Linked DNA regions of Homo sapiens: region 1 is linked to region 2. The links come from fine-mapping of genetic effects on gene expression. A gene starts in region 2. The other region holds a variant in brackets. All regions are shown on one strand. Distances are from middle to middle.

What was found. PIP is the estimated chance that this variant, and not a neighbour inherited with it, causes the effect. A credible set is the group of variants that fine-mapping cannot tell apart.
Region 1: its variant is the best candidate, but not a certain one, in a credible set for the expression of THRAP3 in whole blood (TOPMed, PIP 0.71).

The regions. Positions count from the first base shown.
Region 1 is chr1:36,255,003-36,259,389 of GRCh38, forward strand. THRAP3 (thyroid hormone receptor associated protein 3) reads left to right here. Exons shown (of 12, transcript NM_005119.4): 2 at 4,380-4,387. Among named protein-coding and RNA genes, the nearest start is that of THRAP3, 33 kb to the left of the region's middle. RefSeq lists a silencer at 2,608-2,667. The variant G/C (reference allele first, on the strand shown) is at 2,000.
Region 2 is chr1:36,222,501-36,226,887 of GRCh38, forward strand. THRAP3 (thyroid hormone receptor associated protein 3) reads left to right here and starts at 1,943. Exons shown (of 12, transcript NM_005119.4): 1 at 1,943-2,005. RefSeq lists enhancers at 740-909, 1,120-1,419, 1,333-1,860, 1,820-2,029, 1,861-2,389 and a silencer at 1,570-1,689.

The DNA.
Region 1 (4,387 bases), 33 kb after region 2:
AAACCTACTTGGAGCAGACATTGCACAGTTTTCTGTGGTAAAAACTAAAGGTTTATTTGCTAAGCTGTCATCTTATGCTTAGTATTTTTTTTTTACAGTGGGGAATTGCTGAGATTACATTTTGTTATTCATTAGATACTTTGGGTTAACTTGACACTGTCTTCTTTTTTTCGCTTTTAATTGCTATCATCATGCTTTTGAAACAAGAACACATTAGTCCTCAAGTATTACATAAGCTTGCTTGTTACGCCTGGTGGTTTAAAGGACTATCTTTGGCCTCAGGTTCACAAGAGTGGGCAAAGTGTTTCCTTATGTTCTGTAGTTCTCAATAAAAGATTGCCAGGGGCCGGGTACTGTGGCTCGCACTGTAATCCCAGCACTTTGGGAGGCTGAGGCTGGCGGATCATGTGAGGGCAGGTGTTCGAAACCAGCCTGGGCAACATAGTGAGACCCTGTCTCTATTTAATTAAAAAAAAGAATGCCAGGCCAGGCGCGGTGGCTCATGCCTGTAATCCCAGCACTTTGGGAGGCTGAGGTGGGCGGATCATTTGAGGTCAGGAGCTTGAGACCAGCCTGGGTAACATGGTGAAACCCTGTCTCTACTAAAAATACAAAAAAAAAATAGCTGGGTGTGGTTGTGCATGCCTGTAATCCCAGCTACTAGGGAGGCTGAGGCAGGAGAATTGCTTGATCCCAGGAGACGGAGGTTGCAGTGAGCTGAGATTGCACCATTGCACTCCAGCCTGGGTGAGGGAGTGAGACTCTGTCTCAAAAAAAAAAAAAGAAAAGAAAGAAAGATTGCCAGGGGTACTTGAGGTGAGATAAGGAAAAAAAAATTCAGTCTTGTGTACCATAGGAGATACAAATGGTATGGTCCTAGAATGTTAGCGTTTACCCTTTGTTTGGATTTGGAAACTATATCGTCGTTTAAGGTCTACTAATGTGTGGAACATGGGAGCGTTCTGAGTGACACGCTGGTCTAAGGCACTGTTGTCCTTTATCTGGATCATTATTATTATTTTATTCTTTTTTGAGACAAGGTCTTGCTCTGTCACCTAGGCTGGAGTGCAGTAGTGTGAACATGGCTCATTGCAGCCTCTGTCTCTTGGGCTCAGGCAGTTCTCTTGCCTCAGCCTCCCATAATGTTGGGGTTATCGTTGTAAGCCACCACACCTGGCCTGCCTGGATTATTATTATTATTATTATTGTTATTATTGTTATTATTATTATTATTACTTTTTGAGATGGAGTCTTGCTCTGTCCCCCAGGCTGGAGTGCAGTGGCGCAATCTTGGCTCACTGCAACCTCTGCCTCCTGGGTTCACGCCATTCTCCTGCCTCAGCCTCCTGAGTAGCTGGGACTACAGGCGCCCGCCACCACGCCTGGCTAATTTTTTGTATTTTTAGTAGAGACGGGGTTTCACCATGTTAGCCAGGATGGTCTCCATCTCCTGACCTCGTGATCCGCCCGCCTCGGCCTCCCAAAGTGCTGGGATTACAGGCATGAGCCACTGCGCCCGACCCTGCCTGGATTATTTTGGGCATTATCTACTAATTTCTTCTATTTGTGACCCATTAAAATCTGTTCTCCACGCAGCAGCGAGCATGTATCATTGCAGTTTGTGGTATTTTGAAACATAATTATGCTCCTATTTTATGCTCTAAACACTCCAGTGGCTGCCCTCATTACCCAGAGGAAAACCAAAGTCCTTACTTTGATTGCAAGGCCCTGTCCATTCAGCTGTGTTTCTGACCTGATCTACCAACAGCTCATTGGTAACCGTTTGCATTGCAGACATTCTTTTTTTTTGAGACAAGAGTTTCGCTATTGTTGTCCAGGCTGGAGTGCAGTGGTGCGATCTCGGCTCACCACAACCTCTGCCTCCCAGGTTCAAGTGATTCTCCTGCCTCAGCCTCCTGAGTAGCTGGGATTACAGGCACCAGCCACCTCGCCAGGCTAATTTTTTGTGTTTTTAGTAAAGACGGGGTTTCTCCATGTT[G/C]GTCAGGCTGGTCTTGAACTCCCGACCTCAGGTGATCTGCCCGCCTCGGCCTCCCAAAGTGGTGGGATTACAGGTGTGAGCCACCGCGCTTGGCCAACATTGCAGACATTCTTATTTTTGTCTCTTCCTCAGACAGTCAGGCATGTTTCCTCCCCAGGGTCTTTGCATTTGCTGTTTCCTCAGATAAGGCCCAGTATACTCTTTTTCTTCCGTCTCTGCTCAGCTGTCTCATGAGAGAGGCCTTCCCTTAATGCGTGATATAAAATTGTATAACTTTTACTCCTCCAGGTGCCCTCATCTGCTCACTAGAATGTCAGTTCCAGGCATGAAGGGACTTTTAAATTATTGAACCTCCAGTGTTTAGAATAGTGCCTGGCATGTAGTCAGTACTTAATAAATTATTTGTTGAATAAGTGGACAATTAGTAATGTGTAGAAGGGAAGAGGGTCTATTGTGGAGTCTCCTTGCTAATACACTGCTGTTTGGCCAAAGGAGGTTCAGGAGATAGAGGCTGACAAGTATGCCTGTGGCTGGCCAGATGACATGCAGGACAGGCTAGGCAGGAGGAGGGCAACTGTGGTGGCAGGGGGTGACTCAGGGTTTCAGGTGTCTCTTCGCTGTCACAGAGTAACTAAAGGCCAGAGCCTCAGATTTGCTTATTCACTCATCGCAACAATGGGGAATTGAAGACTTGTTGGAATGATAAAATTCTTGCCAATATCCAAGAAGAGGTTAATTAATAGGAAATATGATGGAGTAATAAAATGGGAGATTTATGTGTGTGTACTTTTGCCATCTGGTTAGAATTAGAGGGAAAGATGGATGTATTGGAATAGATTGTGTTTTTTTGTTGTTTTGAGACAGAGTCTCGCTCTGTCACCCACGCTGGAGTGCAATGGCACGATCTCGGCACACTGCAACCTCTGCTTCCCGAGTTCAAGGGATTCTCCTGCCTCAGCCTCCCGAATAGCTGGGATTACAGCCATGTGCCACCATGCCCGGCTACTTTTTGTATTTTTAGTAGAGACATGGTTTCACCATGTTGTCCAGGCTGGTCTTGAACTCTGGACCTCGTGATCCGCCCGCCTCGGCCTCCCAAAGTGCTGGGATTACAGGCATGAGCCACCACGCCCGGCTTGGAATAGGTTGTTTTTTAAATTCAACATGTTACAGCATAAGAGCAGTTTGCAGTCCTGTAGCAGACATGGGATTTCCCTCACTAGCTAGGCAGAGCTGACTGATGTGAGCCCTCTGTGCCTCTGGAGTGAGGAATCAGGGGAAGAAGTTTTGGCTGATGTAACCTAGGCTGAATTAGAAGAATACATAGCGAGAAGACATGAAAAAGTATTTTGAGTGAGTTTTTTAAAGTGCTATATTTGTACTTACATTAATAAAGAAACACATACCGACATTGTTATTTGGTAAAGGATCTGAATACTAAGCCTCATCTGGATAAAACAGTATTATCCTGTTAGTAATTTTTTTTTTTCTTGAGGCGAAGTCTCACTCTGTCCCCCAGGCTGGAGTACAGTGGCGCGATCTCGGCTCACCGCAAGCTCCACCTCCTGGGTTCACGCCACTCTCCCACCTCAGCCTCCTGAGTAGCTGAGACTACAGGTGCCTGCTGCCACGCCTGGCTAATTTTGTTTTTGTATTTTTACTAGAGACGGGATTCCACCATATTAGCCAGGATGATCTCGATCTCCTGACCTCGTGATCCGCCCGCCTTGGCCTCCCAAAGTGCTGGGATTATAGGCGTGAGCCACTGCCCCTGTAATAAGAATAACAACAAAGTTTTGATAAGGCAGGAGTGAGGACATCTAATTACCTACATGAGCTTGCTGGTCTTGGAACTTGTTTTTCCTGTTTGTTTTGGAAAACGCTGGACATAGCTTTGATGTATGACCATGTTCATAGATCTGGGAATAGACAACTGGAGCAGAAGGGAATTTTTGTGCTTTTATGGGTAGGTACGGAGAGTTACTTTACCTTGAAATGCATTTGTTAAATTCATTTTAATATACTTCTGTTCATTGCTTTCTTATTTTAAACATCTGATTTTTGTCAGGTTCACCAGGTTGAGTTTTGTGGAGCTTGTGAATTAGTCTTGCATAATGAAAACCTTAGCACCTGAAATATTGCCAGTGAAAGTATCAGGTTACAGTAAGGAAGGCTTTTGCTTTCCATACTGTAGGAGGTTAGATGAATGAAAACCTGTCAGACAGAGGCAGACCATCTCATACTTTGAGAGAAAAGCTTGGGTCCTTTTGGAGTAAAGCTGAGGGCTAAAGTAGGGTTTGTGTTTATAGATTTTGAGCATCAGTAACAGAATCTGCATTTGGGTAGCCATTTTATCACTACTTATTTTCTCTCATTTCAGAAGTGTAT
Region 2 (4,387 bases):
GGTTCAAGCGATTCTCCTGTCTCAGCCTCCTGAGTAGCTGGGATTACAGGTGCCCACCACCACGCCCGGCTAATCTGTAGTATTTTTAGTAGAGAACGGGTTTCGCCATGTTGGCTGGGCTGATCACGAACTCCTGACCTCAGGTGAGCTGCCCGCCTCGGTTCTCCCAAAGCGTTGGGATTACCGGCGTGAGCCACCGCGCCCGGCCTATGCCTGTATTTCTTAAAAGGGGAGCCAAAATTATGTATTTTGGTATCCATCTAGTTTACTACCGTGTTCCCAGTATTTTACACTGGGCATTGTATACAGTAGACACCCAGAAAATCTTTGAATTTAAAATTACATTGGTTCAGCCCCGTGGCTCACGCCTGTAATCCCAGCACTTTGGAAGGCCGAGGCAGGTGGATCACTTGAGGTCAGGAGTCTGATACCAGCTTGGCCAACGTGGCGAAACCCCGTCTCCACAAAAAGTAGAAAAATTAGCCGGGTGGTGGCATATGCCCGTAAAATCAGCTACTCAGGAGGCTTAGGCAGGAGAATCGCTTGAACCTGGGAGGCAGATGTTGCAGTGACCCAAAATCGCACCACTGCCCTCCAGCCTGGGCGACATAGGGAGAATCTCAATAAATAAATAAATAAATAAATAAAAATAAAATCAATTAAATTAGAACGTTTTAAGAAGCACTGCGCAGTACGTCGACCACAAGAAGTGCTCAAAGAAGGAAGAAAGAGTAAGCCGTGTGCAAGGAATGCTGCCGAAGCCACTAAGGGCAAGGGCTGATGTGGCGTGGTCTGCTACTTGAGTTGAGCCTTGCAGCTTTTCTCTTAGGAAGAGCATTAGATTTCTTTATTAATTGATGTGTACTGTGTCTACTTTTCTCTGGAGGTGCAGAAATCCATCAAAACTGATCTCGGCTCTCAAAGAGCTCACAGTCTTGTCGGGGAAGGCCCCGATACTTACAGAGTAAGATGCAAACTTACTGTGGGAACACAGGCATAGGGAGGAGCTAGTCAACTTTGAAAGCATCACAGATGACCTATGAGATGGGTCTTAAATGTTCAGAGACACTAGAGCAGAAATTCCGGAGGAAACCAGCCTGTGCAAAACTGATAAACGCAGAGATTCTCAAATTTGTAGGTGGGTAAGAATCACCCGAGAGATCGGTTTAAAATGTAGACTGCAGGGAGACACTCCCCGGTAAACTTTTGGTTCAATACCCCAGTAGCACCCATTTTAACAAACTTCCCAGGACGACAGTCAGAAAATCATAGTTACAGAAGGCAGGCTGGGGAGAGGCGGTTTCTGGGTCTCCGAATGAGGTCACACAATTAAAATTAAAAAAACGAAACCAAACCAACCCCTCCATTTGCGTTGCGCTTTCAGGGTGCTTGAGGCTTTCCTGTGCCTTACTTTGTCGGAGCCTGGCAACATCGCTGTGGGGTAGAAATTACAAGTCTCATTTCACAGGGGAGGAAACAAGTTTAGAGAGGAGGGATGAATTTGCTCAAGGTCACAAAGCGGAAGGGAGCGCAGCAGAGACCAAAAACAGGGAGACTCGACTTCCAACTCGGAAGCTTTTCAACAAGGCAAGCTGGCCCGGAGTGGGTGGGGCTCAGACTCTCCCTCCAGGCTGGTTCCAAAATGGTGGGGGCAGTGGCGTCAGCAACGCCCCCGCCCCTTCCGTCCACCGCCCTCCTCCATCTCCAGGCCACCCAGGCGGGGGGAGGGGACGGCCCCGAGCAACCCACGTGACCGCCGACAACCGAGCGCGTGACGCAAAGCGGCGGGCCCAACGCTCGCCTTGTCTTTTGGGAAACGTAGTTCTGATGGCAGCCAAGTCGGCCAGGAGAGGAGGGCGTAGGACTACATTTCCCAGGAGGCAGCGGGTCTACGCCGTCGCCGTCGTCGGAGAGCGGAGACGCTGGGCGCGCTGTGGGGCGGGGGCGAGGTTCGGGCTGGTTGTTCCGTTGCGAGCTGCAGCTGCGATCTCTGTGGTAGGCCCAGGTGAGTGAGCGCCTCTGATGGAAGTTAGGGCAGCTTAACCGGCTCTAGTGGTTTCGTCTCTTATCTTTTTTCCCCAGCTGCTGGTCAGGGGCTCGGGGAAGGCCTGGCGTGGAGTCGCTCCCCCCAGCTTACACCCTGGCCTCTTCTGAGCGGGCTCCGTTCCCTCCGGCTCCTCCCCTTCCCCGCCCTTTAGGTCTTCCCCTGGCCCCGGCCTAGCTCCCAAGGCTCTTGGTCGCCTTCTCTGCAGAGCAGCTCCTACGCCGCTTTATCTTGCAGTCGGCCTGGGGGCGGCCACTCCCTACTCCTCCCGTTTTGGTCGTATGAACCCCGTTATTTGGATTTCTTTTCCCGGAACTCCCGAGTGCCCTTCCCCCCACCCAGTCCCCATTGGCCTGGTTCGGTCTTCTCCTAGGGCGCATGTGGCTGCCACTCAGTAAATGTTAGTACCGCTTCCGTTCTTTCCAGCCTGGTGGCCAAAAACGGGATAGTCCAAATTTGTCTCCTACGGGAATATTAGAGTTCTCACTTTTTTCTTGGGCTGGAGCTGAGGCCGGCTTGCATTCCAGTGGCAATCGGCGTGAGTTCTGCTTATATGAGGTGAATTATTTTGCTTCTCTTAGCACCTAAGCAACTTTTATCAACTGTTGTCTTTGACTTTACAAATCTTAGGGGTGGAGCATGGCAGCAGAAGCTGGGGAGCAGCAATGGTGCACAGAAGTTGGAAGCCATCAGTGGCAGTACAGTGTTTATGGGGAATTTGTTACTTGGGGTGAAGGGAAAGCCTCTGAGAGTATAGAAGGACCTGGCAAGAGAGAGGCAGTGAAGCTTCTGTTGGGAGCATAACAGAAGTATCCTGAACCAGTTGGCTTGGGTTTAAATCTTGGCCCTGCTATCTTTTGATCTTAGGTCAAGAGTCTTCATCTCCAGCTGCCTCAGTTTTCTTATCACTAAAACAGCAGTAAGTAACAGTGACCCCTTTACAGGGTTATTGTGGAGACTAAATGAGATAAAATAAAAATCACTTAGCCACTGTTAAAAAGTAATATCATCATTTATAGGTTTTTTTTTTAGAGTGTGCGCCGAGAGAGATGAGGCGTGTATCACACCGTTATTTTTCTTCTGTTTCAGATGACCCTGACTTTTTTCGTTTGTGGAAGTACTGTTGTAGTCTGTTCTGTAATTCTAGACAGTCTGACGTGTGTATTATGATTTAGAAGCTTGTTAAATAGCCAAAACCGGCTCCTGCCATGAACAACTTGTGGAGCAAATCGGGCTCAGTTTGTTCTTTGCCGGGAGATGTATTTTGTGAGCCAATGTTCATACGTTAATGATAAGTTTTACTGCAGCCATTTGGGCTTAATTGCATTTTGTAAGAGAGTTGTGTTGAGGTTTCTGTAAGAAGTGATTTGATTAAAAACCTCTATATCCAGTGTAATTCCATCTCTTTGTTTTTTAAACGTTTTAACACCAGAGAAAGATCTCCAATTTTGGAGACTGATGTTTTTAGTTTTGTAGACTAGGTACAGTTCAATTTTAGCAGTGGTGATGGTAGTAGTAGTACCACCTTAGTGTATTTATTTAATACCAAATATATAGGTACTTTTAAATTTGGTTTAGCCTGCAAAATATGGATTACAAAAAGAGTGATCTATTTTGTTCCGAGGAATTGGAGGGAGGAAGCTTGGAATATTTCTGAGATTAGCACAGAGATGGGAAATGTTGATGACTGGGAGGGTACACAGACATACGATTTATTATTATTATTATTTTTTGAGACAAAGTCTCGCGCTGTCACCCAGGCTGGAGTGCAGGGGCACAATCTCGGCTCACTGCAACCTCCGCCTCCTGGGTTCAAGCGATTCTCCTGCTTCTGCCTCCTGAGTAGCTGGGATTACAGGTGTGTGTCACCACGCCTGGCTCATTTTTGTATTTGTAGTAGAGACGGGGTTTCACCATGTTGGCCAGGCTAGTCTTGAACTCCTGACTTCAGGGGATCACCTGCCTCGGCCTCCCAAAGTGCTGGGATTACAGGCGTAAGCCACCGCGCCCGGCCACGATTTATTATTTTTAGAATGGATAGTCCTAACCACTAAGCATTTTAGGGCGCTACCCTGTTTCTGTAGGGCATATTGACATCCTGAATGCAAGGAAGTCTGGTTAATGCTATTCTCTCAAATACAGGGTTTTGGTGGATTTTTTCACACATATTCTATAAACATCTAAGATCTGTTCACTGTTTGACTCTGGTTGATTGGGTAATTTATTCAACAAATACTACTTGAGAGCCTGTCATTTACCAGCTTCTGTTGTGGGCCTGTGAATATATTAGGGTGTGATGACAGATGAGGTCTTGTCTTTTGGAAACTTAACAGGATTGTTGGG